Linked DNA regions of Homo sapiens: regions 2, 3 and 4 are each linked to region 1. The links come from fine-mapping of genetic effects on plasma protein levels. A gene starts in region 1. Each other region holds a variant in brackets. All regions are shown on one strand. Distances are from middle to middle. Region 1 holds the start of MPO (myeloperoxidase). Region 2 overlaps RAD51C (RAD51 paralog C). Region 3 overlaps DHX40 (DEAH-box helicase 40). Region 4 overlaps TEX14 (testis expressed 14, intercellular bridge forming factor).

The links. A credible set is the group of variants that fine-mapping cannot tell apart. PIP is the posterior inclusion probability: the model's chance that the variant is causal. Protein levels are from antibody-based Olink assays in UK Biobank. Linkage for the fine-mapping came from a reference panel and not from the study's own genotypes, which makes the PIPs less certain.
Region 2: its variant is the best candidate, but not a certain one, in a credible set for the plasma level of the MPO protein (UK Biobank, PIP 0.75).
Region 3: its variant is the best candidate, but not a certain one, in a credible set for the plasma level of the MPO protein (UK Biobank, PIP 0.90).
Region 4: its variant is the best candidate, but not a certain one, in a credible set for the plasma level of the MPO protein (UK Biobank, PIP 0.73).

Annotation. Positions count from the first base shown.
Region 1 is chr17:58,277,037-58,285,140 of GRCh38, reverse strand. It overlaps MPO (myeloperoxidase), which reads left to right and starts at 4,206. Exons shown (of 12, transcript NM_000250.2): 1 at 4,206-4,536; 2 at 4,682-4,775; 3 at 5,127-5,302; 4 at 5,495-5,618; 5 at 5,715-5,844; 6 at 5,927-6,133; 7 at 6,996-7,314. The coding sequence starts at 4,383. RefSeq lists enhancers at 95-351, 264-879, 3,256-3,273, 5,858-6,547, 7,679-8,104 and promoters at 2,926-3,126, 3,172-3,397, 3,282-3,683, 4,076-4,216, 3,622-4,216.
Region 2 is chr17:58,711,964-58,720,067 of GRCh38, reverse strand. All of the region lies in intron 5 of RAD51C (RAD51 paralog C), which reads right to left. Among named protein-coding and RNA genes, the nearest start is that of RAD51C, 23 kb to the right of the region's middle. The variant C/T (reference allele first, on the strand shown) is at 3,667.
Region 3 is chr17:59,583,583-59,591,686 of GRCh38, reverse strand. DHX40 (DEAH-box helicase 40) reads right to left here. Exons shown (of 18, transcript NM_024612.5): 11 at 5,454-5,534; 12 at 3,634-3,791. Among named protein-coding and RNA genes, the nearest start is that of DHX40, 22 kb to the right of the region's middle. The variant G/A (reference allele first, on the strand shown) is at 4,678.
Region 4 is chr17:58,664,310-58,672,413 of GRCh38, reverse strand. All of the region lies in intron 1 of TEX14 (testis expressed 14, intercellular bridge forming factor), which reads left to right. All of the region lies in intron 1 of IGBP1C (IGBP1 family member C), which reads left to right. It also overlaps the pseudogene RNU1-108P. Among named protein-coding and RNA genes, the nearest start is that of IGBP1C, 24 kb to the left of the region's middle. RefSeq lists an enhancer at 3,029-3,078. The variant C/T (reference allele first, on the strand shown) is at 3,189.

The DNA.
Region 1 (8,104 bases):
ATAAAACAAGATCTATGGGCTGAGTAAAACTGGTTTGTCTAAGCAGCCGCTGCCTCTGCCATCTCCCCAGCTTCCATAGCCTTCTGGGGGTGCCTCTTTCTCTCCAACCACACACAGGAAATCAGGCTGAAATCCCAACTGAATTATTTCTTAAACAGCATTAAGAAACAACATGCTGTTTTGCAAGCAGTAGCAGAGAGGGCCCGTTATCCCACCAGCAGCTGGGCTTCACCCTGGGGGTGGGGATATTTGGGAACTCTAAGTGGGCAGAAGAGACGGCAGTGGGGTGTGAGTGTGTTGGAGGCGGGGAGCTCTCTCAAATGACTATAGTCTTGAGATGTAGCAGTCCCAGCAGTGCCCTCCAGAGCCTACCCCCAGGAAGGGGACTGGCGGGTAACTCACATGGGACAAAGCTTATTTGAAATCCCTCCCACTCCCTTGAGCTGCATTCCCCTGGTTACTCTGCATGCTGAGAAGAGCTTTGAGCCTCAAACACACCTGGCCCGACAAATAGGGCCTAGATGAGGGAACGACAGAGGTGCAGACAGGAGAGGCTGACCACCTTGGGATAACCTCAGGTGGGTCATTATTAATTGGTTGAAAACATGTCAAGTCATAGAACATCTCTAGCCCTGGCACACACATGTGCATCCCCAGACCCACCCCCGGGCCAAAGACAGGGGCTTTGGGGAATCCACATCTTGGGAGTGCTCTCACCTCTATGTGGGTGGAGCACTCAGGGAGTTTAAACGTCGTTCTTGGAGAAGTATTTTCAAACACTCCTGGCCTGATTGCTGCCTGTGAGGAAGCAGAGCAAGCCTCTTAACAGGTGAATCGCTGACATGCTGCCTGCCAGGTCTCTGTGTCTGGGCCTGCCTTTCCAGCGCACTGTCCACACTGCAACCAGAGCAGGTGAGCTCTCCAAAGTAACTTGGACCATGCACTTCCGCTTCACAGACCTCATGACTCCCTGGGGCTTCGGGACAATAATTTCTCAGTAGGTCTGCGAGAATGTTGCATCCTGGGCCTCTGCTTGGCCCACCAGCCTCACCCTGTCCACCCTCTCCCTGTGTTGGAACTGAGTGAAGCCGACAGTGTCATTCTCTGGGCCCAGAATGCTCTTCCTCTGTGTCTACTTGGTCAGCTTTGAGACATTCTTCAAGACAGTCTCCAGAATCAATTCCTCAAGAAAGCCTTCACTGACCTCCCCCAGTTGATCCAAGTGCTGCTCTTCGCTGCTCCCTAAGGTCCCTGCATTGGTTCTGGGGGTGCCATTTGTTTGCCTTTCTGCTCCCCTCTGTGAGCTCCTTGAGGATAAGGCTCATGCTTTGCTCAGTGGAGAATGCTCAATGCCCAGCGCAGCACCTGACAAGGGCTCAGTAAATACTTGTTGAAGGAATCATTGAATGACAAGGGCTCAGTAAATACTTGTTGAAGAAATCATTGAATGAAAGGTCAGGAACAGGTGTCCAGAGGCTACTGGGTAAAGAGCACTGGTTTGGAAGTCAGGAGACTGGGCATGGAGATTATTCTGAACTGTGTCACACTGCTGACCTTGGTCAAGTCGTTTCCTTCCCTGGGCTCCTTCTTTCTCAGCTCTACAATAAGGGGCTTGCATTAAATATCTCTCCCCTGTTGAGCCTTGACAATTCCCTTAAAAGAGCGAAAGGACACTCAAGCATACTCAAGGTTGACAAGGGTGACAGGGGACAGGTGCTCTCATGCATGGCTGATGGGAGGATGAGGTAAAATCTTCAGCAGGCCATTTGACTATCAATATTAAAAAGCCCTAAAACACGCATACCCAAATACGCAGGAATTTTACTTCTTGCCTAAGGAAATAATTGACGATGTGGCGAGAGATTTAACTCCATGGATGCTTATCCTAGTACTACTTATAATAATGAAAATCAGAAACAACTCTAAGTATCTAATGAGATAGAATTAGTTAATAAATCATATAAAATAGTTATATGAAATATTATACAGACATAAAAATGAAGTAAACCTGTATTTATTGACACAGGGAGATGCTCAGACTAAAATTGTTAAGTACCGAAAGTAGATGGTAAAACAATATTTAAAGTTCTTCTTATCAATATTTAAAAATATATATTATGTTTACATATAGGATATCAAATTCTTAAATGAGGTATTGGTGAGTGGTGGGATTATGGGCAATTATTTTCCTTCCTATTGTTTATTTATGTGAAGACAATGATAAACCTTGAAAGAAAAAAGTACCCACAATCTCACTTGATGATGAGTAATTTTGATTTATTTTTATTTTTGCATACTCGTGTTCTCAAACTTTTCATCAGTGAAAATTATATTACTTAAAGGATTGAAAAATCATTTCCAAAAGCCTCTAAAATTCTAGAGCTTGATTCACAAAGAGCCACTCGACCAACTTCACACACAGCAAGTCACTGGCAGGGCAAAAGCTTGGTTCCCCTTCTCAGCAGGGGACAGAATCCCTGGACACACTGGGAAGATATTCTGGGTGTTGCTGTCCCTTGTCCCTTGGCCAAGAGGTGGTCTGGGCATAGAAGACAAGAGTGGGCCGGGCGCGGTGGCTCACGCCTGTAATCCCAACAGTGGGTGGATCAGGAGGAGGTCAGGAGTTTGAGACCAGCCTGGCCAACATGTTGAAACCCCATCTCTACTAAAAATACAAAATATTAGCCGGGCATGGTGGCGGGCGCCTGTAATCCCAGCTACTTGGGAGGCTGAGGCAGGAGAATTGCTTGAACCCAGGAGGCAGAGGTTGCAGTGAGCCGAGATTGCACCACTGTACTCCAGCTCCGCCAACAGTGAGAGACCCTGTCTCAAAAAAAAAAAAAAAAAAAAAGAGTGGGTGGCGGGAAGGTGGCTGAAGGTAGGAGGGGGAACCTAAATGGGACATGGGAGGCATGGTTGGCACGAGCTCAGCCTGACCAGGGCCCAGAGAGGTAGACTGATTCAGTCAAAAGTCGTAGTACTTTTCCTGCTGAGATTGGTGGCCCTTTTGCTGGGCTTTCTCAAGCAAGAAATATCCTCTTCTGTTTCAGAATTATTCTGAATCATTAACCCAAGTCCTCCCAACTGCACTGATCCTGTCCCAGAGAGGCCCTGGGCTGCATCACCTAACTGATCACTAACCACAACCAGTTCTGCTCTCTCCTGGTTCCTGAAATCCAGGAGCAGATGGTGGTGGGGAGGAGGAGTTTGGAGACAGCCCTCTACCAGAAGCCAAGAAGAAAGGGGAGTGAGGAGGGATAGAGGAAGTTATCTTGGTCCTGCGCCCACAGTCCCCAGGGTCCTCCTTCCTGTGAAGCCCAACGGTCTCCAGCCAGATTTCCTGTCCCCTTAGCCCCACCAAGAACCAGAGGCTGCCCATTGGGTGGCTGTTGGATGCAGGTTACTGTTGGAGTGGGGGATGGCCACCTGAGGCCAATTGGGTCATCTTTACTCCAGGTCTCCCTTTCATCCTCCTGTCTTCCCTGGGGGCACTCTATTCCCTGCAATTCCTTGGGCTACCAGTTCCTGACTTTTGTTCCTTTCAAAGGAACCCTGGATAACCAGTGTAACCAGAATTTCAGAGGGGTTAGTTGTGTGTATCCCCTGGGGACAAGCACTGGTATAGGCACACAATGGTGAGCTGAGAAATCTTGGGCTGGTAGTGCTAAATTCAAAGGCTGGGGACAGGCTGGGGCCAGTGGCTCATGCCTGTAATCCCAGCACTTTGGGAGGCTGAGGCGGGTGGATCACTTGAGGTCAGGAGTTCAAGACCAGCCTGGCCAACATGGTGAAACCCTGTATCTACTAAAAATACAAAAATTAGCTTCTTGCCTAAGGAAAAATACAAAAATTACTTCTTGCCTAAGGAAATAATTGATGATGTGGCTAGAGGCTAGGGCGTGGTGGCGGGCACCTGTAATCCCAGCTACTCGGGAGGCTGAGGCAGAAGAATCGCTTGAACCATTGCACATCAGCCTGGGCAACAGAGCAAGATAACGTCTCAAAAAAAAAAAAAAAAAAGGCTGGGGACAATGCTGGCCCCTCCTTTCCTGCCCCTTCCCCCCATTTCAGGGGCCCCTCTGTGTGTACCTTCCAACCCCAGTGGGGGAGGAGAAAGAGTTCAGTCTCCAGGATCAGACCTTCCTCTACCTCACCCCACCCCCAGCTTAGAGGACATAAAAGCGCAGATTGAGCTAAGAGGAGCTGACAATATCAGGTGAGCTGTGGAGGTGGGGTCCTTGGAAGCTGGATGACAGCAGCTGGCAAGGGGATAAGAGAGCAGTGAGCCCCTCCCTCAAGGAGGTCTGGCTTTATCCATAGACAGGGCCCTCTGAGGTGGGGCTGAGGTACAAAGGGGGATTGAGCAGCCCAGGAGAAGAGAGATGGGGGTTCCCTTCTTCTCTTCTCTCAGATGCATGGTGGACTTAGGACCTTGCTGGGCTGGGGGTCTCACTGCAGAGATGAAGCTGCTTCTGGCCCTAGCAGGGCTCCTGGCCATTCTGGCCACGCCCCAGCCCTCTGAAGGTGCTGCTCCAGGTAACAGTTCCCAAGGTGGGAGAAGATGGTGTGTTGGGGTGGTTGTGTTCCAGAGACCCCTTTTCTCAGAGCAGGCCTTCCTAGCTCTGGGGCCTGATAGGGGGTTGGGGCCCATTCCTGACTTTGTGATCCCTGCTCTGGGCAGCTGTCCTGGGGGAGGTGGACACCTCGTTGGTGCTGAGCTCCATGGAGGAGGCCAAGCAGCTGGTGGACAAGGCCTACAAGGAGCGGCGGGAAAGGTGGGGCACGAGGCACTGCCCAGCTCTGGGCAAGGATGTCCCAGGCCTTTCAGAGAAGCAGCAGGCAGCAGGGAGCTTGAAGGTGGGAGAGGGGGACTATGGGGACCCATGTGGACTCCCTTTCTGTCTGTCTGTCCCTGTGTTTCTGGATGGGAGAACAGCTTAAAAGCCATCCTTCCCAAAGCCTTGCCTCTGTCTGGACACCCAGGTCCATATCCTTTTTATAAAAGGAAGCCTTCCTCCCACCCGTGGGCCTGCCTGCATGGTCCTGCATGTCTGCCCCTGGGCTGGGGCTCTGCTGGGTGGGTCTGTATCCCTTCTCTGGCCCTCACTCCTCCTTTCTCCAAGCAGCATCAAGCAGCGGCTTCGCAGCGGCTCAGCCAGCCCCATGGAACTCCTATCCTACTTCAAGCAGCCGGTGGCAGCCACCAGGACGGCGGTGAGGGCCGCTGACTACCTGCACGTGGCTCTAGACCTGCTGGAGAGGAAGCTGCGGTCCCTGTGGCGAAGGCCATTCAATGTCACTGGTACTGTTGCCCATCACACCCCAGGTCCCTGCTCCACTAGTGACTCCTCCTAGGGACCCCAGCCGTCTCTCAGTGATCCCCTCAACTTCTTCCTCCAGGGAGTCTCAGGAGTCTCCAGGGCTCCTCAGCCTCAGGTTGCCTGGGATAGGAAGTGAGGCGGCTCAGCTCCCCCATTGTTCTTTCCCCCGGCAGATGTGCTGACGCCCGCCCAGCTGAATGTGTTGTCCAAGTCAAGCGGCTGCGCCTACCAGGACGTGGGGGTGACTTGCCCGGAGCAGGACAAATACCGCACCATCACCGGGATGTGCAACAACAGGTGCGGCTGGCTGGGGGTGGCTGCAGGAACCGGGCTCAGAGAGGCGTCCCGGACGCCACAAGCCTCCCGGTGTCAGCGCCCTGTCCTCCCCTGCAGACGCAGCCCCACGCTGGGGGCCTCCAACCGTGCCTTTGTGCGCTGGCTGCCGGCGGAGTATGAGGACGGCTTCTCTCTTCCCTACGGCTGGACGCCCGGGGTCAAGCGCAACGGCTTCCCGGTGGCTCTGGTGAGCGCCGGCGGGCAGAGGGGGCGAGGCCCGGCCACGCGGTGCGCGGACCCAGGCGCCAGCTGATCTCCGTGTCCCGCAGGCTCGCGCGGTCTCCAACGAGATCGTGCGCTTCCCCACTGATCAGCTGACTCCGGACCAGGAGCGCTCACTCATGTTCATGCAATGGGGCCAGCTGTTGGACCACGACCTCGACTTCACCCCTGAGCCGGCCGCCCGGGCCTCCTTCGTCACTGGCGTCAACTGCGAGACCAGCTGCGTTCAGCAGCCGCCCTGCTTCCCGCTCAAGGTGGCCCTGCTTCCCGCCCACTGCCTGGGTTGGGAGAGGGGAGATTGTTTCTGGAAGGGGCCATCTCCCTTCTGTGCCCAGGTTTCCTTTCCCAGACGCTGAGGAAGGCTGGCCCTGCCTCCCTTGTGTCCACAGCACTGGCTGCTCAGCTATGACCTGTCTCCTTCCTGCGCCTGGGCTCAGCCAGCTGGCAGCCAGGGCCGTCCATTTGCTCACTGCCTCTGGCAGGCCAAGGGAGAGAGGGTTGTTCCTCCTTGGCTGACAGGAGTCCTGTTGGTGGAATCACTGGCTCTTTGTTAGGTTGGGAGAGGGTTCTGGGAGGAGACCTTCTCAGTGCCCCCCAAGCCTCCATGCTCAGTCCTGTTTCCGCCCCACTGAGAGGGCAGCCCCAACCCCCATCACACAGAAAGAGAGAGCCTGGGGGTCTGGTGGGTGCCGTGGGACAGGGCTGGGAGTGGGCAGGGTGGTCGAGGCACTGCTGAGTAGGGAAGGAGGAGGAGAGAAAGGAGAGAGCGCCTGAGAGAGGGAGAGACAGACAGGAGAATGTCAGGGCCAGAGGGAGAGCAGGCACAGCAGAGAGAAGGGGAGAGAGACGGGCGACGCTTTAGTGAGGAGGGATCCGAGGCCTGGCGGTGCCCAGACCCAGGGGTTGCCCAGGTTCCCAGTTCAGTGTTCTGCTCATTAACCCTGCACCTCAGAGGCTGTTGCTGATGGCGCCCTAGGCAGCGATCCCTTTCGGGCCTCCGGAGGCCTCTCTGCAGGTTGAGGGTACCAGAGGTCCTGAGGGCAGGGGGAGATCCAGTTCTGCCTGGGCACCTTCCTTGCCCTCGGTGAGCCAGTCTAGCCTCTCTCTGTGCCTCAGATCCCGCCCAATGACCCCCGCATCAAGAACCAAGCCGACTGCATCCCGTTCTTCCGCTCCTGCCCGGCTTGCCCCGGGAGCAACATCACCATCCGCAACCAGATCAACGCGCTCACTTCCTTCGTGGACGCCAGCATGGTGTACGGCAGCGAGGAGCCCCTGGCCAGGAACCTGCGCAACATGTCCAACCAGCTGGGGCTGCTGGCCGTCAACCAGCGCTTCCAAGACAACGGCCGGGCCCTGCTGCCCTTTGACAACCTGCACGATGACCCCTGTCTCCTCACCAACCGCTCAGCGCGCATCCCCTGCTTCCTGGCAGGTCAGCTTTGGGGTGGGGACCAGAGGTGGCATAGGAGATGTTCCCTGTTGGAGCCACAGTGAGTCTGTTTGTGAGCAGCTTGTGGGTTTGTACTTAGAGAGACTGTCCTCACCAGCCATTACTATCAACTTCATGATATTAATCCAGTTGCCTTGGTAACAAGTCAGATGGAGCCAGAAAAGCAGAAAAGCAAACAACCTCTCCAACCCTAAGATGGAGACCCAGGCATGGCTGAGGAGCCTCTGTCCATCAGTCCATTGCTTTCTCTGTCCCTTTTTTCCCTTCTGGACTCTGGAAGACAAGAGAGTCAAATCCCTCAGGGGCAGGGAACTAAAGGACAGAGAACGCTGTGGTGCCCTCACCCTCTAGAGCGACACTATCCAATGTGGTAGCCACTAGCTGCATGTGGCTATTTTAATTTTAGTTATTTTAAATTAAATAAACCCAGTTTCTCAGCGGTGCTAACCACATTTCAAATGCTCAATTGCCTTACAGTCTAGTGGCTCCCCCTATTGGGTGGCACAGATGTAAAATATTTTCATCATCTCGGAAGGTTGAGTTGGACCACACTGCTCCAAAATATCCCCTCCTGCGCATCTTAATTACCCATAATAAGAGATGATGGGATTTTAAATGTAAACAATTGGCAGTTTTGGAGACACAATTGGGGCAGTGATGGCAGCCATGACCAGACATTTTCCAGTGTTTTTTTTTTTTCTAAGACGGAATCTCACTCTGTCACCCAGGCTTGAGTACAGTGGCACAGTCTCGGCTCACTGCAACCTCTGCC
Region 2 (8,104 bases), 430 kb before region 1:
TTCTGATAAAAAATTTTAAATCCCAGCACTTTGGGAGGCCAAGACGGGCGAATCACGAGGTCAGGAGATCGAGACCATCCTGGCTAACAGGGTGAGCGGATCACGAGGTCAGGAGATCGAGACCATCCTGGCTAACACGGTGAAACCCTGTCTCTACTAAAAATATAAAAAATCAGCTGGGCGTGGTGGCGGGCGCCTGTAGTCCCAGTTGCTCAGGAGGCTGAGACAGGAGAATGGCGTGAACCCGGGGAGCAGAGCCTGCAGTGAGCTGAGATAGCGCTACTGCACTCCAGCCTGGGCAACAGAGTGAGACTCCATCTCAAAAAAAAAAAAAAAAATTAAAAATCCACCCATAAAAAGATGTAGTTACCTGAAAATATGATTCTACTGATCATAAAGTATTTTATTTTCATACTTTAGAGATGGGGTCTTGCTATGTTGCCCAGGTGGTCCTTGAAGTCCTAGACTCACATGATCCTCCCACCTCAGCCTCTTGAACAGCTGGGACTAGAGGTGTTTGCCACATCTAGCTCATAAAACTTTTTTTTTAAGAGACAGGGTCTTGCTATGTTGCCCAGGCTGATCTTGAACTCCTGGGCTCACACAATCCTCCTGCCTCAGCCTCCCAAAATGCTGGGATTACAGGCATAAGCCACTGTACCTGACCTACAAAAAACTTTTTAAAAAATTAGCTGGGCATGGTGGTGCACAACTGTAGTCCCAGCTACTCAGGAGGCTGAGGCAGGAGAATTGGTTGAGCCCAGGAGGTTGAAGCAGCAGTGAGCCATGATTCTGTCACCGTACCCCAGCCTGATGACCAAGCAAGACCTTGTCTCAAAAAAGAAAGACTGAGTCTCGCTCTGTTGCCCAGGCTGGAGTGCAATGGCGCGATCTCGGCTCACTGCAATCTCCGCCTCCCGGGTTCAAGCTATTCTCCTGCCTCAGCCTCCCAAGTAGCTAGGATTACAGGTGCCTGCCACCATGCCTGGCTAATTTTTTGCATTTTTAGTAAAGATGGGGTTTTACCATGTTGGCCGGCCTGGTCTCGAACTCCTGACCTCAAGTGATCCACCCACCTCGGCCTCCCAAAGGGCCGGGATTATAAGCATGTGTCACTGTGCCTGGCCTGAGTCCATGTTCTTTATCACTATTGCCTCCCTAGAATATTTTTATTGAAAGGAATATGAAATCCTTAACAAATACCTCAATGTTTATACTTTTAAGAAGGAAGCAAATATAGTATTACTGTTTATAATTTTATAGGAAAAAAAGAAACTGAGGCAACAAATTATGAGAAGAGACTTAAAACTCATAAAGAAGGTACAATATAAGTAGATGAACTAGGAAAAAAAAAATCCTAGTAGTCAGGTCAAATGACTCCAAATTATGATTATGCTACTCAGCTATTAACAGCCACAGGTGTTGCTTTGCAACTCACAGATGGCCCTCAAGGTTTCATATTGCTAATTCTCTTTGTATAAATACTGACCTACAAAAAAGGTTCCAGGTTTTGAAAGACAGTAATTTTAAATAAAGCAGGGAAAACAAAAGCGTTTAAGGCTGACTTAACACAGAAGTCAGATCTGTTATCTTTCCATCCCCAAATCTCCAGAAATGGTTACTTTATATACTCTTCTAATACATATCTTCCCTCCAGAAAAAAAGAGTTAATATTGCAAACTAAAACTGATAATGAAATTCCATGAAAAGCAGTAAGAAAAAGGTGTCTACTCTGAAAATGAGTTTTTTATGTAAGAAAACCGAGAAACAGCCCAGGCGCGGTGGCTCATGCCTATAATCCCAGCACTTTGGGAGGCCGAGGCAGGTAGATCACCTGAGGTCAGGAGTTCGAGACCAGCCAGGCCAACATGGCGATACCCCATCTCTACCAAAATTACAAAAAATTAGCCGAACGTTGGGGCGGGCACCTGTAACCCCAGCTACTCGGGAGGCTGAGACAGGAGAATCACTGAAATCCAGGAGGCAGAGGTTGCAGTGAGCCAATATTGCACCATTGCGCTCCAGCCTGGGCAACAGGAGCAAGACTCCAACTCAAAAAAAAAGAAAAAGAAAACTGCGAAAGAAAAAAGGTTGTTTGGCTGTTCCCACTGCAGTGGTAACACCCTAAAATTTCTGTTTCACCGCAAAGGAGAAATCTGTGATCCATCTAGATCTCAATTAGATACCAAGTGGATGACATGATTTTCTTCTAGCTCCCCTCCCCTTACATGCCACAGGGCATTCTCCATTTGTTACCTCTCATCGGGCACCTTAGAAAAAGCTAAGCAGGAATTTAAATTGGCAGCTTTTCTTTCTTTTTCTTTTTTTCTTTGAGACAAGGTCTCACTCTGTTGCTCAGGCTGGAGTGCAATGGCATGATCTTGGCTCACTGCAACCTCCGCCTCCTGAGTTCAAGCGATTCCCCTGCCTCAGCCTCATGAGTAGCTGGGATTACAGGTGTGAGCTACCATGCCTGGTTAAGCTTGTATTTTTGGTAAAGACGGGGTTTCTCCATGTTGGTCAGGCTGGTCTCGAACTCCTGACCTCAGGTGATCTCCACCTCGGCCTCCCAAAGTGCTAGGATTACAGGCATGAGCCACCACACCCGGCCGGCAGCTTTTCTTAAGAATAGTTTTTAGAAATGGGGTCTCACTCTGTCACCCAGGCTGGGGGGCAATGACACAATCATAGCTTACTGCAGCCTTGAAGTTGTGGACTCAAACAATCTTCCTGCCTTAGCTTCCCCAGTAGCTAGAACTATAGTTCAAGCACAAGTTCTACTAGCTAGAACTATAGGCATGCCTAACTAATTTTTAAATTATTTGTAGAAACAGGGTTTTGCTATGTTGCCCAGATTAACTTCGAACTCCTGGCCTCAAGTGATCCTCCCACCTTGGCCTCCCAAAGTGCTGGGATTATAGGCATGAGCCACTGTGCCTGGCCCAGGTGTAGCTTTTAAAAGTTAAATTAGCCAGGTGCGGTGGCTCACGACTGTAATCCCAGCACTTTGGGAGGCCGAGGCGGGCGGATCACGAGGTCAGAGCGAGACCATCCTGGGTAACACGGTGAAACCCCGTCTCTACTAAAAATACACAAAAAATTAGCCGGGCGTGGTGGTGTGTGCCTGTAGTCCCAGCTACTCAGGAGGCTGAGGCAGGAGAATGGTGTGAACCCAGGAGGCAGAGGCAGGAGAATGGTGAACCCGGGAGGCAGAGCTTGCAGTGAGCCAAGATCGCGCCACTGCACTCCAGCCTGGGTGACAGAGCGAGACTCCGTCTTAAAAAAAAAAAAAAAAGTTACATTAGAAGCCAGGCGTGGTGGCTTGTGCCGGTAATCCCAGTACTTTGGGAGGCAGAGGTGGGAGGATCACAAGGTCAGGATATCAAAGCCATCCTGGCTAACATGGTGAAACCCTGTCTCGACTAAAAATACAAAAAAATAGCTGGGCATGGTGGCATGCGCCTGTAGTCCCAGCTACTAGGGAGGCTGAGGGAGGAGAATGGCGTGAACCCGGGAGGAGGAGGTTGCAGTGAGCCAAGATCGCGCCACTGCACTCCAGCCTGGGCGACAGAGTGAGACTCCATCTCAAAAAAAATAAATAAAAAAGTTAAATTAAAATCATAAATTCAGTAGCTCAGTAGTATTAGCTATATTTCAAGTGCTGAA[C/T]AGTCATGCAGCTACTGTACTAGACTGTACATTTTCATCTTTCCATCAGATCTACTGGACAGTGCTGGTTTAGAGAGAGTACTTAGTTTACGCACTACGTATCTTTAGGAAAATATAAATCAAACTACTGATTTACCAGGTATTCAACATGCCAAAATTAGAATTTCCATTATTAGCAAATATTTATATAGCAATTATATTACTTTTGCAAAACGATTGGCCTCCATGATACAACTGAAAATTAGTATGTGATTATGCCAAGCTTCTAAAGAATAAGTGCTTTTTTTTTTTTTTTTCGAGACAGAGTCTTGCTCTGTTGCTCAGGCTGGAGTGCAGTGGCATGACCTCGGCTCACTGCAACCTCTGCCTCCTGGGTTCAAGAGAGTTTCCTGCCTCAGCCTCCCAAGTAGCTAGGATTACAGGTGTCCCCCACCACGCTTGGCTAAATTTTGTATTTTTAGTAAAGACAGAGTTTCACCATGTTGGCCAGGCTGGTCTCGAACTCCTGACCTCAGGTGATCCACCCAGCTTGGCCTCCCAAAGTGCTGGGATTACAGGCGTGAGCCACCATGCCAGGTCAAAAGTTTAAAACAGTAAAGTAACAATCACTTGAAATTATGAACTTCAGAGCTTTAAAAATATTTCTGCCATGCAATGTCCTTCAACCAATGAACAGATAAACAAAATGTGATATATCCATAAAATGCAAAATTAGTCATTAAAAAGATACTGATGGGTGCTAAAATACAGATAAACCTTGAAAACATCACGCTAAGTGAAAGAAGTCAGACATAAAAGGCCATATACTGTATGATCTGCTTATATAAAATGTCCAGAAAAGACAAATTCACAGAAACAGAAAGCATACTAGTGGTTGTGAGGGACTGGGGGAGGGTAGAATAGAGAATGACAGCTAATGAAAAGGGTTTTTTTTTTTTTTTTTTTTTGAGACAGAGTTTCGCTCTTGTTGCCCAGGCTGGAGTGCAATGGCGCGGTCCTGGCTTGCTGCAACCTCCGCCTCCTGGGTTCAAGCAATTCTCCTGCCTCAGCCTCCTGAGTAGCTGGGATTACAGGCACCTGCCACCACAACTGGCTAATTTTTTTGTATTTTTAGTAGAGATGGGGTTTCACCATGTTGGCCAGGCTGGTTGTGAACTCCTGACCTCAGGTGATCCACCCACCTTGGCCTCCCAAAGTGCTGGAATTACAGGGGTGAGCTATTGCACCCAGCTGAAAAGAGGTTTTTTGTTTTTTTTTGTTTTTTTTTTTTTAATAATCTGGAACTGTGTGTTTCCCAGAACCAGAATTACTTTCTCCATAGGGTACAAAGTTATAGTTGACCGCAAGAAAAATTTGCATGAGATTTGAAACGTGACACTGAAGGAGCAGACATTTTAAATATTCTGAAATTCACTGTGAGGTTGGGGTTTCTTTTTTAGGATGACGGAAATATTCTAAAATTATACAGTGGTGATGTTTGCAAAACTCTGTGGATACACTGAAAATCACTGAATTGTGCACACTGCAAGGATGAATCATATATGTCATTAAGGCTGTTTAAAAAATTATGCCAATAATCCAAAAAACATATTTTTAAAGGACTTTCTCCATATCAATTTGGCAAAGATTTAAAAGACTGGTACCTAGCTGGGCGTGGTGGCTCACGCGTATAATCCCAGCACTTTGGGAGGCTGAGGCGGGTGGATCACGAGGTCAGGAGATCGAGACCATCCTGGCTAACACAGTGAAACCCATCTCTACTAAAAATATAAAAAATTAGCCGGGCATGGTGGCACGCGCCTGTAGTTCCAGCTACTCGGGAGGCTGAGGCAGGAGAATCTCTTGAACCCAGGAGGCACAGGTTGCAGTGAGCCAAGATCGCGCCATGGCACTCCAACCTGGGCGACAGAGCGAGACTCCGTCTCAAAGATATAAATAAATAAATAAAAGACTGGTACCCAAAGTTGGTAAAGATATGGGAAAACAAGAGTTCCCATTCATTGCTGTAGAGACATACTTTGGAGCATAGTTTCTGAGGGTAATTTTATAACATAAAACAAAATGTTCAAAAATCGATTCCTTTGGCTTAATATTTTCACTTTAAGAAATTTATTCTAGACTAGCTGTGGTGGCTCACACCTGTAATCCCAGCACTTTGGGAGGCCGAGGAGGGTCGATCACTTGAGGTCAGGAGTTTGAGACCAGCCTGGCCAACATGGTGAAACCCCATCTCTACTAAAAATACAAAAATTAGCCAGGTGTGGTGGTGCACGCCTGTAATCCCAGCTATTCGGGAGACTGTGGAATGAGAAGCTCTGGAACCTGGGAGGTGGAGGCTGCAGTGAGCCAAGAGTGTGACACTGTACTCCAACCTGGGTGAGAGAGGAAGACTCTATCTAAAACAGAAAAAAAAAAAAGAGAGAGACCATCAATAAGGAGGTGGTTAAAAAAACTACGCTACAGGGTGGGCACAGTGGCTCATGCCTATGGAAGGCTGAAGCAGATGGATCCCTTAAGCCCAGGAGTTCAAGAACAGCCTAGGCAACATAGTGAGACCTCATCTCTACAAAAAACTTATTTATTTATTTATTTTGGAGCTAGAGTCTCACTGTGTCTCCCAGGCTGGAGTGCAACAGTGTGATCTTGGCTCACTGCAACCTCCACCTCCCGAGTTCAAGTGATTCTCCTGCCTCAGCCTCCCAAGTAGCTAGGACTACAGGTGAGCACCAACACACCTGGCTAATTTTTGTATTATTAGTAGAGACAAGGTTTCACCATGTTGGCAAGGCTGGTCTTGAACTCCTGACCTCAAGTGATCTGCTTGCCCTGGCCTCCCACAGTGGTGGGTTATAGGTGTGAGCCACCGTGCCCAGCCTCTACAAAAAATTTAAAAATTGGCTGGGTGTGGTGGTGTGTGCCTGTGGTCTCAGTTACTCAAGAGGCTGAGGTGAAAGGATTGCTTAAGCCCAGGAGATTGAGGCTACAGTGAACCAAGATCATGCCACTGCACTCTAGCCTGGATGACAGAGCGAGACCCTGTCTCATAAAAAAGAAAACCCAAAAACAAATACAAATACAAAAAAAACCTATGCTACAGTCATACAGCAAAATACTATGCAGCTGTTAGTGTAAAGCAGACTTATAAGTAGTGTACATGGAAAAAAAAAGTAGTATACATGGAAAGATGTTCACAATATATTAAGTGAAAAACAGAAAACTGCTTTGCATAATAGCATGTATAATATGACCTCATTTTCATTTCTTTTTGTGTTTTTGAAGACAGGGTCTTGCTCTGCTGCCTAGGCTGGAGTGCAGTGGTGCGATCTCAGCTCACTGCAACCTTTGCCTCCCAGCCTCAAGCAATACTCCCACCTCAGCCGCTTAAGTAGCTAGAACTATAGGTGCATGCCACTATGCTTGGCTAAGATTTTTTTAAAAATTTGTAGCGATGAAGTCTCACTATATTTCCCAGGCTGGTCTCAAACTCATGGGCTCAAGTGATCCTCCCACCTTGGCCTCCCAAAGTGCTGGGATTACAGGCGTGAGCCACTGCGGTGGCATGACCTCATTTTCTTTTTTTTTTGAGACGGAGTCTTGCTCTGTCGCCCAGGCTGGAGTGCAGTGGCGTATCTCAGCTCACTGCAAGCTCCGCCTCCCGGGTTCATGCCATTCTCCTGCCTCAGCCTCCCGAGTAGCTGAAATTACAGGCGCCCGCCATCAAGCCTAGCTACTTTTTTGTATTTTTAGTAGAGATGGGGTTTCACCGTGTTAGCCAGGATGGTCTCGATCTCCTGACCTCGTGATCTGCCCGCCTTGGCCTCCCAAAGTGCTGGGATTACAGGCGTGAGCCACCACACCTGGCCTATGACCTCATTTTCTAAAACGTAAGTTTGTATATGCATGAAGTCTGCAAAAATATTTACACCAGACAACAATATTTACACAATCTCTGAGTAATGAATAATCGCTTCCTACATTTTTTATTGTTTAGAACTTTTTTTTTCTTTTACAAAAAGCATACATAACTTAAAATTTCTTTTTTTTTTTTTTTTTTTTTGAGATGGAGTGTTGCTCTCTCGCCCAGGATGGAGTGCAGTGGCGCAATCTTGGCTCACTGCAACCTCCGCCTTCTGGGTTCAAATGATTCCCCTGCCTCAGCCTCCTGAGTAGCTGGGATTACAGGCATGCCACCACGCCTGACTATTTTTTGTATTTTTAGTAGAGATGGGGTTTCACCATGTTGGTCAGGCTGGTCTCGAACTCCTGACCTCATGATCCGCCCACCTCAGTCTCCCAAAGTGCTGGCATTACAGATGTGAGCCGCCGTGCCCGGCCAATTATTCTTATTTTATGTATTTTTTTTTTTAGAGATGGGGTCAAGCTTTGTTGTTCAGGCTGGTCTCAAACTCCTGGCTTCAGGCGGTCCTCCCACTTTGGC
Region 3 (8,104 bases), 1.3 Mb before region 1:
GGGGGTAAAATGTTAAAAATTGCGGAAACTGCATAGAAGGTATAAAGGAATTCCTTTGCTATTCTTATTTGAAATTATATAAGAATAAATGTCACCCAAAAAAGGCTAACACCACACTGATTTTATCTATTTAAATATTCCAACATGGAAAAAACATTTTTCTTTTTCTAGCCTTAAAAGACTATTAGAGTTGGTCACCTTAATCCAACTTCTTGGTTTTACAAATGAAAAATGAAATCTAGAAAAACTAGGGCCATGGTCAGATAATTAGGTAGTAGTGGAGCTGGACAGAACCCTGCACTCTTAACTCCTACTTCAATACTCTGTAATAGGTTTTGAAATATTTTAGCTTGTTTATTTCTTTCTTTCTTTTTTCTTTTTGGGGATGGAGTCTCACTCTGTCACCCAGGCTGGAGTGCAGTGGCACGATCTCAGCTCACTGCAACCTCCGCCTCCTGGATTCAAGCAATTCTCCGCCTCAGCCTCCCCAGTAGCTGGCAACACAGGTGCACGCCACGCCTGGCTAATTTTTATATTTTTAGTAGAGACAGGGTTTCACCATGTCGGCCAGGCTGGTCTTAAACTCCTGACCTCAGGTGACCCACCTGCCTCAGCCTCCCAAAGTGCTGGGATTACAAGTGTGAGCCACCACACCTGGCCTATTTTTTAATTTCTTATCAGAGATGGGGTCTTGCTATGTTGCCCAGGCTGGCCCTGATCTCGTGGGCTCAAGCAATCATCCCACCTCAGTCTCCCAAGGAGCTGGGATACCACTGTGCCCACTGGTATTTTTAGCTCTGATACTGCCTCATGAAAACCAGTTAACATTACTTATTTTTATACAGCATTTTATTAGAACAAAAAATTGCAATTAGGGGTATTACCAGAATTAAAATTCTGACATTTCAGACTGCAACTGCTGGGTGCAATGGCTCAGGCCTGTAATACCAGCATTTTAAGAGGCCAAGGCTGGTGGGTCACTTGAGCTCAGGAGTTTGAGACCAGCCTGGGCAACAGAGTGAAACCCCATCTGTATAAAAATACAAAAAATTAGCCAGGCATAGTAGCAAGCATCTGTGGTCCCAGCTGCTGGGGAGGCTGAGGTATGGGAGGATCACTTGAGCCTGGAAGGCAGAGGTTGCAATGAGCCAAGATCACGCCACTGCATTCCAGCCTGGGCAACACAGTGAGACCTTGTCTCAATAAAATTTAAAAATTTTTTAAATTAAAAAAAAAAGACTGCAAACTATTTGAAACAGTATATTGATTAGAGTATTTTTATAGAAAAATGTATCCTCCATTATAATCATGGCAATAATAAATTAATCTGGACCCGACACTTCCAGCCTACAAAGGTATAAAGCCAGTGAGCTAACCCATTCTGTTGTCTGGCTGCAGACAAGGTATACTGTTCACTTGGAAGCTCCTTGAAAGAAAAAATTACTCCACTGCATGAAAACAAATCTAACATATGTCAAATTAAATTGTGTCCTATACTGACACACCAAGAAAAGAAAGAAGCAGAAGTTTAAAGACCTGGAAACTTCAAAAGAATTCTCTAAGGATGCAAGGGCTAAACTACCTTTTCTTTTGATCCTACAAAAAAAAAATTAGTAAATTACTAATGTACTATAAAAGCACTATCTTCCTTTACTAATGAAAGGAAATTAACGCCGGGCTGGGCGTGGTGGCTCATGCCTGCAATCCCAAGGCCAAGGTAGGCAGATCACCTGAGGTCAGGAGTTCCAGACCAGCCTGACCAACATGGTGAAACCCCATCTCTACTAAAAATACAAAAATTAGCCAGGCGTGGTGGCCCATGCCTGTAATCCCAGCTACCTGGGAGGCTGAGGCAGAAGAATCGCTTGAACCTGGGAGGAGGAGGTTGCAGTGAGTCCAGATCACACCATTGCACTCCAGCCTGGGCAACAAGAGTGAAACTCCATCTCAAAAACAACAACAACAAAACTTGTTTATCCTTAGTTTTCTGTCCTAGGGCTAAGGCACGGTAAACCCTCAGTAAATGCTCAATGAATTACTGGCAATCTAAATAAATGAAGAGATATTCCATGTACATGGATAGGAAGACAATACTGTCAAGATGTCATTTCTTCGCAACTTAATCTATCTTAATTAAAACATAATCCCAATTAAAATCCCAGCAAGGGCCGGGCGCGGTGGCTCACGCCTGTAATCCCAGCACTTTGGGAGGCTGAGGCGGGTGGATCACAAGGTCAGGAGATTGAGACCATCCTGGCTAACACAGTGAAACCCTGTCTCTACTAAAAATGCAAAAAATTAGCCGGGCGTTGTGGCGGGCGCCTGTAGTCCCAGCTACTCGGGAGGCTGAGGCGAGAGAACGGCACGAATCTGGGAGGCAGAGCTTGTAGTGAGCCGAGATCAGGCCACTGCACTCCAGCCCGGGTGACAGAGCAAGACTCCATCTCAAAAAAAAAAAAAAAAAAAAAAAATCCCAGCAAGTTCAGCAAGTTATTTTGTGGATTTCAACAGACTGGTTCTAAAGTTTATATGAAAAAGACCCAGAATGGCCTAAACAATTTTGAAGAGGAAGAACAAAACTTCAAGAGTTACTATAAAGCTCCAATAACCAGGACAGTGTGGTATTGGTGGAAGAACAAACAGACAATCAGATAAATGGAACAAGATACAGAGCCCAGAAACAGACCCATATAAGAATAGTCAGCTGATATTTAACAAAGAAGCGAAGGCATTTCAACAGAAAAAGGACAGTGTTTTGAACAAATGGTACCGCAACAACTGTACGTCCAAATACTAAAAGACAATAGAAGAGAAAATCTAGATGACTTTGGGTACGACAATGACTTTTTTAGATACAACAATAAAGACACAATCTATGAAAGAAATAATTGATAAGGTAGACTTCGTCAAAAATAAAAACTTCCGCTCTGCAAAAGTCAATGTCAAAACAATTAGAAGATAAACCACAGACTGGGAGAAAATATTTACAAAAGATCTATCTGTTAAATAACTATTTAAAATATGCAAAGACCTCTTAACAATAAGAAAACAACCCGGCTGGGCGTGCTGGCTCACGCCTGTAATCCCAGCACTTTGGGAGGCCAAGGCGGGCAGATGACCTGAGGTCAGGAGTTCGAGACCAGCCTGGCCAACATGGAGAAACCGCGCCTCTACTAAAAATACAGAATTAGCCAGGCGTGGTGGCACATGCCTATAATCCCAGCTAAAACCATATAACACAAAGAGTGATCCCTTTAGTTAATAATAATGTGTCAATATTGGCTCACCAATTGCAACTTATATGTCATACAAATCAAAGATGTTAATAGGAGAAATTGCTGTGGGAGGTTGAGGGGATGAATGTCAACCCTCTGTACTTCCTACTAAATTTTTCTGTAAACTTAAAAATGCTCTAAAAAATAAAGTCTATTAATTTTGTTTTTGGTTTTTTTTTTTTTTTTTTTTTTAGTAGAGATGGGGTTTTACCATGTTGGTAAGGCTGGTCTTCCAACTTCTGACCTCAAGCAATCCACCTGCCTTGCCCTCCCAAAGTGATGGGATTACAGGCGTGAGCCACCGTGCCCAGCCAAGTCTATTAGTTTTAAAAAACACAACTTAAAATAAACATCTTACCAGGTCTAATGAAGACGTTTTCCACAGACAACATTGCTGCTATTGGAAGTAGTAGATCTTCACAATCCAGGGAAGCAGCTTTTATTACTGCACATGTCAGATGTGGAGGCAAAGGAAACTCCACCATAGACAAACCCAATCTGGTGACATGGCCACTCCTTAATACAAAGAAAAAGTTTGTAAGTCTTTCTACACTAGGAGAGTACAAATGTAACATTCATCATTCAGAATAAATCAGATATAATTTACGTTACCTCCAATCACCTCCAGAAGTTCAATTCAATTTAAGAAAATTAGGCCAGGCGTGGTGGCTCATGCCTGTAATCCTAGCACTTTGGGAAGCTGAGGCAGGTGGATCACCTGAGGTCAGGAGTTCAAGACCTGCCTGGCCAACATGGCAAAACCCCGTTTCCACTAAAAACACAAAAATTAGCTGGGTGTGGTGGCATGCGCCTGTAGTCCCTGCTACTTGGGAGGCTGAGGCAGGAGAATCACTCAAACCCGGGAGGCAAAGGTTGCAAAGCTACTAAGGAGGCTGAGGGGGATTACACCTGTAATCCCAGCACTTTGGGAGGCCGAGGCAGGTAGATCACTTCAGGTCAGGAGTTTGAGACCAGCCTGACCAACATGGTGAAACCCTATCTCTACCAAAATATAAAAAAATTACCTGGGCATGGTGGTGCATGCCTATAATCCCAGCTACCTGGGAGGCTGAGGCAGGAGAATTGCTTGAACCTGGGAGGTGGAGATTGCAGTGAGGTGAGATTGCACCATTGTACTCCAGTCTGGGCAACAAGAGTAAAACTCCGTCTCAAAAAACAAAAAAAAAGAAGATGTCTTTGAAGACATGAGAGAATAATAATTTTATTTTTTCAATTTTACCGTTTTTTTTTTTTTGGAGACAGGGTCTTGCTCCGTCTCCCAGGCTGGAGTGCAATGGCGCAATCTCCTCAGCTCACTGCACCCCTCACCTCCGAAGCTCAGACGATCCTCCCACCTCAGCTTCCCAAGTAGCTGGGACTACTGGCATGTGCCAACACCATC[G/A]GCTAATTTTTGTATTTTCAGTAGAGATGGGTTTTACTATGTTTCTCAGGCTTGTCTCGAACAACTGGGCTCAAGCAATCTGCTCGCCTTGGCCTCCCAAAGTGCTGGAATTACAGGCGTGAGCCACCACGCACATCCAAGAGAATAATAATTATTAATATCAAACCTAACCACCCCATCACACAAACATGAAAACAAGGACTCTGGCTCTCTTATCATTTTTATGTATCCAGCATAATGCTTAGCACTGAAATGGTACTCAGAAATTACTTGTTAAATAATACCAATATTTATTAAACAAAAGGGATTATACCGTGCAGTTTCTTTCTCCTTTTTTTTTTTTTCAGATGGAGTTTCGCTCTGTTGCCCAGGCTGGAGTGCAGTGGCATGATCTTGGCTCACTGCAAGCTCTGCCTCCCAGGATCACACCATTCTCCTGCCTCAGCCTCCCGAGTAGCTGGGACTACAGGCGCCCACCACCACGCCCAGCTAATTTTGTTTTTGTATTTTTAGTAGAGACGGGGCTTCACCATGTTAGCCAGGATGGTCTCGATCTCCTGACCTCATGATCCACCGACCTCGGCCTCCCAAAGTGCTGGGATTACAGGTATGAGCCACAGCGCCCGGCTGGTTTTTCAATCAGAATTGTGATGAAAGACTAACAATCCATTCAATTTAAAGAAATTATTTTCTACTGTTAGAGAAAGGTATTTAGAGCCCTGTTTAAAAAGAGATCAATATCTGTTTTGATTGTGATTTTTTTTTTTTTTTTTTACCTGTCAATAGCATCACACTGGTAAAGTTGTTTAAGAGCTTCTAAAATAAGTCTCTCATTAGGTGGATCCAAATAGGGAAACCTGTGTGTTTAAATGAGATATGAAGTGAGAGGCATTCCTTGAACATGGTAGGATTTTATATAGACATGACGAAAATTTCTTTAAAAGGTTTTATTTCTATTTTTCAAGTCATCTTCTTTTTCTAAAAAAAAATTATATGATCATGATCAGCATTTGGCAAAAGAGGAAATAATTTTTTTCTGAATCACACTCCTCTACTTCAAGAAGTGATTCTTTTTGACTCCCCTTAGCTGAAATACTCTCACCAGTCTACTTATCCTAATCCTGCCCCACCCATCCTTCACAGCCTGTCAAGTCTACTCTTTTCTGCAGTCCATAATTTTTTTCCAAACTTTTATAAAAATAGTAGAGAAATATTAATAGTAGAGAAATATTAATTAGTACTGAAAATTATAAATTGTTCAATAGTACCTCAAAATGCTTTTTTTTGGAGATGGAGTCTCGCTCTGTTGCCCAGGCTGGAGTGCAATGGCACGATCTCTGATCACTGCAACCTCCATCTCCCAGGTTCAAGCAATTCTCCTGCCTCAGCCTCCCGAGTAGCTGGGACTACAGGCACATGCCACCACGCCTAGCTAATTTTTTGTATTTTAGTAGAGACAGGGTTTCACCATGTTGCCCAGGCTGGTCTTGAACTCCTGTGCTTAAGCAATCCGCCCGCCTCGGCCTCCCAAAGTGCTAGGATTACAGGCGTGAGCCACCGCACCCAGCCTCAAAATGCTTCTTAAATACAATTTAATTTTTTTTTTTTTTGAGACGGAGTCTCACTCTGCTGCCCAGGTTGGAGTGCAGTGTGGCAATCTCGGCTCACTACAACCTCCGTCTCCTGGGTTCAAGTGATTCTCCTGCCTCAGCCTGCTGAGTAGCTGGGATTACAGGCACCTGCCACCATGCCCAGATAATTTTTGTATTTTTAGTAGAGGCGGGGTTTCACCATATTGGTCAGGCTTGTCTCAAACTCCTGACCTCAGGTGATCCACCCACTTCAGCCTCCCAAAGTGCTGGGATTACGGGCGTAAGCCACCGCACCCGGCCGGACAAAATGCTTTCATATAAATGGGGAAATATATTCAATTAATTTAGCCATATTTGTGTCACATATGTGTACATGTGTATGTACTTATTTTCTGCCAAACTATCTCAGAATAAGTTGCAAATACAATGCCATTGCACACTTACAACTATCTCGGCATGCATCTCCTGAAAATAAGGACATTCTCTTACATCACCATAATGCGCTATTAATAAATATAATAAAATTAACAATTAACAATAATATTCAAAAGGGATAGCATCATCAAACATGAATATATATTTTTTAAAAACAGGAAAAATAATTACTTGATATCATCTGCACTGGGTTATTTTTTCCACCTTAAATCTGGATATGAAAAATCATCTACTCCAACTTCTCACCTTGAAAAAAATCCAATAGAAGACAAAAGGTCCAATACCTTATATAAAATGTCCATTCCAGGATTGATAACCCTATTTAAAAATAAATAAATAAAACAAGGCCAAGGATGGTAGCTCACGCCTATAATTTCAGCACTCTGGGAGGCTGAGGCAGGAGGACTGCTTGAGCTCAGGAGTTTGACAACAGCCTAGGCAACACAGCAAGATCCCATCTCTTATAAAAAGAAAAAATAATAAGCAAACAATAATCTCTTACACTGTTCTACTGCCAGCTTTCCTACAATTTGTACCAATAGGTCCTGGTAGCTTCTACAGCAAGAATTGGTAAACATTTTCCGTAAAGGGCCAGATAGTAAATAGCTTAGGCTTGCAGGCCATATGGTCTCTGTCACAATTACTCAACCATGCTATTACAGTGAAAGCAGCCACACATAAACAAATGGGTATGGCTGCATTCTAACATTTTATTTACAAAAACAGTCAGTGAGATTAGACCACAGTTTGCCACCCTTGTGCTAGAGCAATACCAAACCAGTCAGCTGCTTCTTCTATATAAAAGGAAAAACTACTTATTCTAAAATATTGCAATTAATTTCCCCCCTTGATTCCTCCAATTACCAATTCTGTCAACCACTCCTTATAAGTTACTTGGTTTCTAAGAGATCTACCATACCTAAGTACCATTCTCTAAAAACACTAGTATGTCAAACTCCTCATAAAACTTGATTATATCCAAAACTGAACTCCAAATGTTGAGTGACCAACACATAACAGGAACGCTGTAATTCCCCATCACCTAGTTTATTAATGTAACCAAAGTCTATGCCAGTGGAATTAAAAAAAAAATTTTTTTTTTTGAGACAGAGTCTTGCTCTGTCGCCCAGGCTGGAGTGCAGTGGTGCGATCTGGGCTCACTGCAAGCTCCGCCTCCCGGGTTCACGCCATTCTCCTGCCTCAGTCTCCCGAGTAGCTGGGACTACAGGCGTCTGCCACCACACCCAGCTAATTTTTTGTATTTTTAGTAGAGACGGGGTTTCACTGTGTTAGCCAGGATGATCTCCATCTCCTGACCTCGCAATCCGCCCACTGTGGCCTCCCAAAGTGCTGGGATTACAGGCGTGAGCCACCGCACCCGGCCTAAAAAAAATTTTTTA
Region 4 (8,104 bases), 390 kb before region 1:
CAGTTTGCATAAATTTGGAGTATTTGGAGTAAGAGTGCTGGAAGATTCTGCAACTTTTTTTCTCCAGCAGTGCTGGGGAAATGGGAGTAGAGGAGATGACTGTTGATTGGCTCTAGGACCAGTTAGAGCAGGGGATTCCAACCCCCTGGAAGGAGCATGGTACCAGTTGGTGGCCTGTTAGGAACTAGGCCGCACAGCAGGAGGTGATGTCATTACTGCCTGAGCACCTCCTCCTGTTAGATCAGCAGCCACATTAGATTCTCATAGGAGCGTGAAACCTATTGTGAACTGAGCATGCCAGGGATCTAGGTTGCACACTCCTTATGAGAACCTAACTAATGCCTGATGAGCTGAGGTGGAACAGTTTCATCCTGAAACCATTCCCACCCACCCCCTGTTATCCGTGGAGAAATGGAAAATTGTCTTCCATGAAACTGGTCCCTGGTGCCAAAAAGTTTGGGAGCCTCTAAGATAGAGGAAATACGCTGTGCTGCAGCATGAAGTAGGTGAGAGATGGGGCTAGGGGCCTAGTGAGTGAAATGGCGTGGAAAGTCTAAAGGATTAGATGAATTGAGGGATGAGCTTCTCTGGCAGTGAGTAGACCTGAGGTCCAGGGAAGGCTTTTGTAAGCTCAAAACATGTAAAATGGTGAGAAAATAGAACAAGAAAACGAGTTTTTAAAATATATTTCTGATCTAGCAAAAAGAGAAATCCACAGAGACCCAGAGAAAGAAACAAATCCAGAAAGGAAAGGCAGGGATGGACCCTGTCTATTTCCTAAGGACATTGGCCATCCTTAGAAGCTCTGGGGCTGGCTTTTAATGGACCACAGGCAGGAGACAAAGCTTGGGGCCTGAGCTGGGTGGGAGGTCTGACTAGAGAGTCCCTCCTCATTCTATAAAGCTGCGACCCCAGGAGAAGAACACTCTCAGTTCTGAGGAATGCCCCCTCCCCAAGAGAAAGATGTTAGAGATATGTGCTGGTCTCAGCCTCAGCCTGAGAATGGGAAGGGGCAGAGAAATCTTCACCACTATCTCACATTCACAGTCCCTCAAAATGGGCCAGAATTCATACTGCTATGTGTATATGTTAGGGGATGGCACAAAAAGTTACTTTAGCCTGGCTTGGTGATGTCCCCCAGCACCAGGCAGAAACAAAAGAAACCCTCTCTAGTCTATTCATTTCTCAAAATGAAACTACAATAATTGAAATAATAATCTTAGTGAATGGGTTAAGCAGCAGACACTGCCAAAGACAGAATTAGTGAAGACAGATCTGAAAAATTACCCAGGATGTAGCTCAAAGAAATATAGAGATGGGAAAATGCAAGAAAGTTTCAAAGAGATAGAGAATAGAATGAGAGGGTCAAGATAAATGCAATGAGAGTTCCAGAAGGTGGAGTGGAAGCAATATTTGGACATGTAATGGTAATCAGTGTCCCAATTGTATATATTTATTGTGTACACGTTGTTTTGAAGTATTATACATTGTGGAATGGCTACAGGGAGCTAATTAATATATGCATTACTGTATGTACTTCTATCATTTTATTGTGGTAAAGATGCTTAACATATGCTTTCAGGAATTTTCAAGAATATATTAAGTATAGTCACTTTTTTTTTTTTTTTTTTTTTTTTTTTTAAGAGGGAGTCTCACTCTGTCGCCCAGGCTGGAGTGTAGTGGCGCAATCTTGACTCACTGCAACCTCCACCTCCCGGGTTCAAGCAATTATCCTGCCTCAGCCTCTCAAGTAGCTGGGATTACAGGTGCCTGCCACCACACCCAGCTAATTTTTGTATTTTTAGTAGAGATGGGTTTCTCCATATTGGCCAGGCTGGTCTCAAACACCTGACCTCAAGTGATCTACCCACTTCAGCCTCCCAAAGTGCTGGGATTACAAGCGTGAGCCACGGCTCCTGGCTGAATTTAGTTTCTTGGTCCCTGATCCTTATTCTTACCTTCCCAAAGCTGTTTGTTGTTTTTTTTTTTAATCTTCCCAAAGTTTATTTAGGCTTCTCACACTCCTTTTCTATCACATTTCTTAGCTTTCTAATCATTACACACACACATCCTATAGATAGATGGATAGATAGGCAGAAATCTCCATGCCAGGTACTTTGCTAGCCTGAGACTCCAGCAGTGACAGATGAAAACTCTCAGGTCCTTCGACAGTCTGTAGTCTAGCCCAGGAAACTGACTGATAATCACACAGTGGAATAATGAATGGACTGAAGATAAAGACTAAAAGAGAAATTAAAGGACTCTTACTATGATAACAGAGGGAGCTCAGCGTGGGAAGAGAAGTTAGATTTGTCAGGAGAGGCAGGGTAAAAACATTTTAAGCAAGGGGAACTACACAGGCAAAGGCTCTGAGGCTGGAAAGAGGCTGCGGCTGTAGCTGTGGCTGCCACGGCGGTATGGTGGACAGTACAGGCAGGCTGGAAAAGCTATGGAGCCAGCCCATGCAGAGCCTCAAGGAGCGTGGGATGGAGTTGGTGCTTTATCCAGAGGGCAGTAAGGAGTATTGAAGGGCTTTGGGCAAGGGAGTAACATTAGATTAGAGCAGCACCAATGCTCCTTCCTGACATTTTGTTAACATGTATTCACATGAGGGTGCTTCTTGCTAAACCTCAATGAAGTCTCAAGCTGTTGCTGGCTTTTTTTTTTTTTTTTTTTTTTTGAGACGGAGTCTCTCTCTGTTGCCCAGTCTAGAGTGCAGTGGCGTGATCTCAGCTCCCTGCAACCTCTGCCTCCCAGGTTCAAGTGATTCACCTGCCTCAGCCTCCTGAGTAGCTGGGATTACAGGCATGCGCCACCACACCTGGCTAATTTTTGTATTTTTAGTAGACATGGGGTTTCACCATTTTGGTCAGGCTGGTTTCGAACTCCTGACCTCAAATGATCCACTTAACCTCGGCCTCCGAAAGTGTCAGGATTACAGGCGTGAGCCACCACGCCCAGCAGCTGGCTTGTTACATTCTTTAGCCATCGTCTGGTGACTTTCAGCAAATATGACAAACTCCTCTCCACACCCCCTCCTGTTTTTTTTTTTGTTTGTTTTTGAGACAGAGTGTCGCTCTTTCGCCCAGGCTGGAGTGCAGTGGCATGATCTCGGCTCACTGCAACCTCTGCCTCCTGGGTTCAAGCCATTCTTCTGCCTCAGCCTCCTGAGTAGCTGGAATTAGAGG[C/T]GTGTACCACCATACCTGGCTAATTTTTGTATTTTTAGTAGAGATGGGGTTTCACCATGTTGGCCAGGCTGGTCTTGAACTCCTGACCTCAGGTGATCTGCCCACCTCACCCTCCCAAAGTGCTGGGATTATAGGCATGAGCCACTGTGCCTGGCATTGTCTCCCCCTTTTTTACACAATACAGATGTATCCCTAATCCTCCATTCATACAGTGTTGATAATTGCCAGGTTCCATTTTTTATGCCTACCTAGAACAGTGGTTCTCAGCCTTTTTTTCTAATTTGATATATACCCGGAACAAATGACACTCACTTGCCAGAATGTCTCCACCCTACAGCTTCTCAAACTGTGTGATGTAATATATTGACCCCCCAGTCCTCAGGGCCTTTGGGTAGGATGTTAGGGTGGGTGACTAGAGCCCTTGGGCCAGTTACCTCGCATAGCAGTTCACCTAGGATGCCACATGCTTTCTGGGTGATCCAGATTATTTTCTGTAGATGTCACCCTTGTCTGTGTGTGCATAAAAATAAAAAAAAGAAGTCCTCTCTGGGGATGACTACATGGATTTTAATTCCTTCTCTACCACTTGGGCACATTTCAGCCTCCCTTGGCCTCAGTTTTCTCATATGCAAAATGGAGATATTGTGTACTCTGTAGAATTGTTGAGTGGATTAAATGAGTTAAGGTGTGTGAAGTTCTTCTCCCTGTGCTGGGAGCACCCTGAGCCTTCAGTGGGCATTGGCTAAGATGATTCAGTAGACAGTCATGACTGGACCCAGGCTCCAGTTACTTCCTCCACATTTGCAGGGGTTTATAGTTACTGCAGCTCCTCCAGGCACATCAGTAGAAGAGGCTTTGGTAGCTGGGAGAGGTGCACTTTTTTGCTGTAAGGATGACTTTGTTCAGGACCATCAGGATAGGTATAGAGACCGCTGCAATGGGGTCTTGTAGTGGAGGAGAAAGACTGGGCACAAGTCCAAAGTACAGCATGGGCAAATGGGAATTTGTAGCCAAGGAGCAGTGTGGAGGTCAGTGGTTAGAAAATTACCAAGAGGAAACATCAGGGGTAAGAGGAATTCTGGCTAAACTGATCTAACAGGATTCTTGCTGAAGACAGGCTGGGGTGATCAGATATCACCTGGGGGGTGGTGCAGGATGAGGAACCTGATCAGATTTGGAGAATTTGGGTTTCAGCTAAATTGACTTAGCAGGGTTCCTTTACTAAAACTGGATTTTACAAGAACATGCACAGACTGGCCTATGAGAAGGTTCAGAAGCCTGAATAAGGTTTGGCCAAGCAAACAAGAAAAGAATCTTTTTTTTTTTTTTTTTTTAGCCAGAGTCTCACTCTGTCGCCCAGGCTGGAGTGCGGTGGCATGATCACGGCTCATTGCCTCACTGCAACCTTCGCCTCCCGGGTTCAAGCAGTTCTCCTGCCTCAGCCTCCCAAGTAGCTGGGATTACAGGCACTTGCCACCATGCCCGGCTAATTTTTGTATTTTTAGTAGAGACAGGGTTTCACCATGTTGGCCAGGCTGGTCTCGAACTCCTGACCTCAAGTGATTCGCCCACCTCAGCCTCCCAAAGTGTTGGGATTACAGGCGTGAGCCACTGCACCCGGCCAGCAAAGAATCTTTGTCATGCCTCAGGTTCTTTATCCATGAAATGGGGATGATTCCATTTCCTACCTCAACGTTGTGAGGATTAACCATAAAGTCCAGATGCATGGTAAACAGTAGATGTTAGCTGTTAGTATTTCTTGGTTTGCTTTAGGGTTTTTATTGGGTTGCCTGACTCACATGTTATAATTATGCTTTAAGGTTTAAGCTGTTCGTTAATGTATTTGTTTTAGTCTTCACAAAAACTCCTCCAAGGACAGTAATGCAGGTTTTACAAACTGAGGAACAAGTTGAGGCCATAAGCTCATCGAAAGTCTTGCATTGTGAACGCTATATTGCAGTCCAGATCTTGGATTCCAAAACCCTCCACTCTGCAGTACAGCCTGCTAGCATGCCCTGTTCCCCTTCTTGGAATAAGAGGAAATGATGCCGGGGTGGTTCACAGCGTGGGTATCCCGTGACTAAAAGTTCATTCACGTCTGTTAGCTCAAGGAAACTCTCCATACAGGGAGATCCGAAGGCCTTAGGCTACGCCAAAAGTAGTGAGGTGGTGCGTTTTTGTCAGGAAAATGGCCTGACAGACGTCACTTGCATTGACGCGAGCAGGAGAAGGAACTGCTGGTTGGAAGCGGGCCGAGATGAGAACGCAGTTGCGCTCTCTGACCAGCCAGGCCTATGCATGACGTCACGCCGGGAGGTGGAGTATGTAGATTAAAGACTGCATTTTGGAAACGCGTTCCTTGGAAGGATTTGCACAACTCTGTTACCAACACCAAGATATAGTATAAAAAATCTGTTTATTTTGTTCACTATATGTGGATAAAGTCCAATTAGAGTCATTTCAGGAGTTACCCGCACTTGCAATGATGTGGGCGGCACCGGGGATTGCTGGGGTCACGCAAGTACCTCATAATTACCTGTCAGGAGAAATACTGTGATTATGGAGGTGGTTTTTCCCTGTGTGTGGCTTATTCGTTGCACTTTGTGCTGATCCCTACGATTTCCCCAAATGTGGGTAACTACAGTGTATAATTTGTGGTAGCGGGAGATTGCGTTCGCACTTGCTGCTGGTTGTGGTAGTTGAAATGCAAGTTTTGTTAGTTGTGTATTAGCTTTTGCTTTTTTTTTTTTTTTTTTTTTTTTTTTTTGCCGTGGAAGGTTTGTTTCACTTTGTTTATCTAGGCTGGAGTGCAGTGGCATCCGAATTCATGCGCTCAGCCTTCTTTGGTTGTTTTAGGTTTTGCCTTATTTATTTTTTTGGGACACAGTCTTGCTCTATTTTCCAGGCTGGAGTGCAGTGGAGCAATCTCGGCTCACCGCAGCCTCCACCTCCCGAGTTCGAGCTATTCTCGTGTCTCAGCTTCCCTAGAAACTGGGATTACATTACAGGCATGCACCACCATGCCTGGCTAATTTTTGCATTTTTAGTAGAGATGGCGTCTTACCATGTTGGCAAGGCTGGTCTCGAACTCTTGTCCTCAAGTGATCCACACCTTCAGCCTCCTAAAATGCTGGAATTACAGGCGTGAGCCATGGCACCCAATTTTTTTTTTTTTTTTTGAGACAGAGTCTCGCCGTCTCCCAGGCTGGAGTTGAGTGGCACAATCTCGGCTCACTGCAACCTCCGCCTCCTAGGTTGAAGCGATTCTCCTGCCTCAGCCTCCTGAGTAGAGCTGGGAATACAGGCACCCGCCACCACGCGTGGCTAGTTTTTTGTATTTTTAGTAGAGACGAGTTTTCACTACGTTGGTCAGGCCGGTCTTGAACTCCTGACCTCATGTGATCCACCCTCCTCGGCCTCCCAAAGTGCTGGGATTATAGGCGTGAGCCACCGCGCCCAGCCTTATTTTTTTTTTTCATTGTTTCTTTTGGTTCTTAAGAATGCTTTGGGGTTGCAGGGTTGTTACCGTTGCTTACTGTTTAAAGCTGTACCTTGCTATCATTTAATGCTTAGGAACTTTAGTGAGGTAAACGCAATGAGTTGTGGGTTTTTTTGTTTTTTGTTTTTTATGAGACAGAGTCTCACCCTGTTGCCTAGGCTGGAGTGCAGTGGCGCGATCTCGGCTCACTGCAACCTCCGCCTCCCAGGTTCAAGCAATTCTCATGCCTCAGCCTCAGAGTAGCTGGACTACAGCCACGCATGACCACAATAAGCTAACTGTATTTTTAGTAGAGGCAGGGTTTAGGCAAGTTGGTCAGGCTGATCTTCAACTGCTGGCCTCAAGCCATCCTGCCTCAGCCTCCCAAAGTGCTGGGATTTCAGGCATGAGTCATTGCACCCAGGCAAAACATGATAATAAAGTTAATTTCATGTGGGCCGGGCCTGATGACTCATGCTTGTAATCCCAGTACTTTGGGAGGCTGAGGCAGGAGGATGGCTTGAGACCAGGAGCTCAAGACCAGACTGGGCAGCATAGCGAGACCCTATCTCTATAAATATAAAATAATAAAAATAATAATATAGCTACTAAAAATGTTCAACTGAATATGTCGAATGTTGCCCACATCATATTCCACTGGACAAGCAGTGCTCTAACTTAATCTGTTTCCTTATTTTAAAGTTTCCAGAGAGCCTTGCTGTATTACTTCCACAAACTTACATGCCTGCTCTTCCTGGAATGCACTTCCCTGCCCTGCCCTTCTTCATCTACCTGGAAAACTTATACTTCAGCCCTTCCAAACTGCCTGGGATCCACTCAGTGCCACTGAACCCAGGGTGGCCTTATCTGTTACGTACCACAGGCACACTGCCTAGGGGCACTTCTTTTAAAAATCAGAAGAAAAAAATGAATTTTTAGGTGGAAGAAAATGTCATATATAATAATATATTCATCTTTTAATCAATGCAGTCATAAGATAGCATTTTTAACATATATTTTAATGGAAATGTATATATTTTATCAGAGGAGGCAGGCACACAAAGGCAAAAGTATGGGCCCTTCAAAATCGTAATGTGGCCCTGCTGAACTTTTTATAGGTCTGGCAAGTCTGTTTTCCCTACAGACTATGATCTTATTTATTGCAGGCAGACTCAGTCTCTGCATTATTCCTCTTAGTATCCCCAGTGGCTAGGCCAGCGGACTGGACCTTGAACATTTAAGTGGCTGTCAGTAAATGAGAAGTATGTGCTACATGTAAGTAATGACTTGAGAACAGGTGTTTTTCATCATTAGCAGCAAAGAAATTCAAGAATATGAATGGCAAAAATACTGGAGTAGACAATGTGGTCATCAGAAATGGAGTTCTCCCAGCATAGGAAAAAGGGTCTGTTAGTACCTGTGATATCAGAGCCATGAG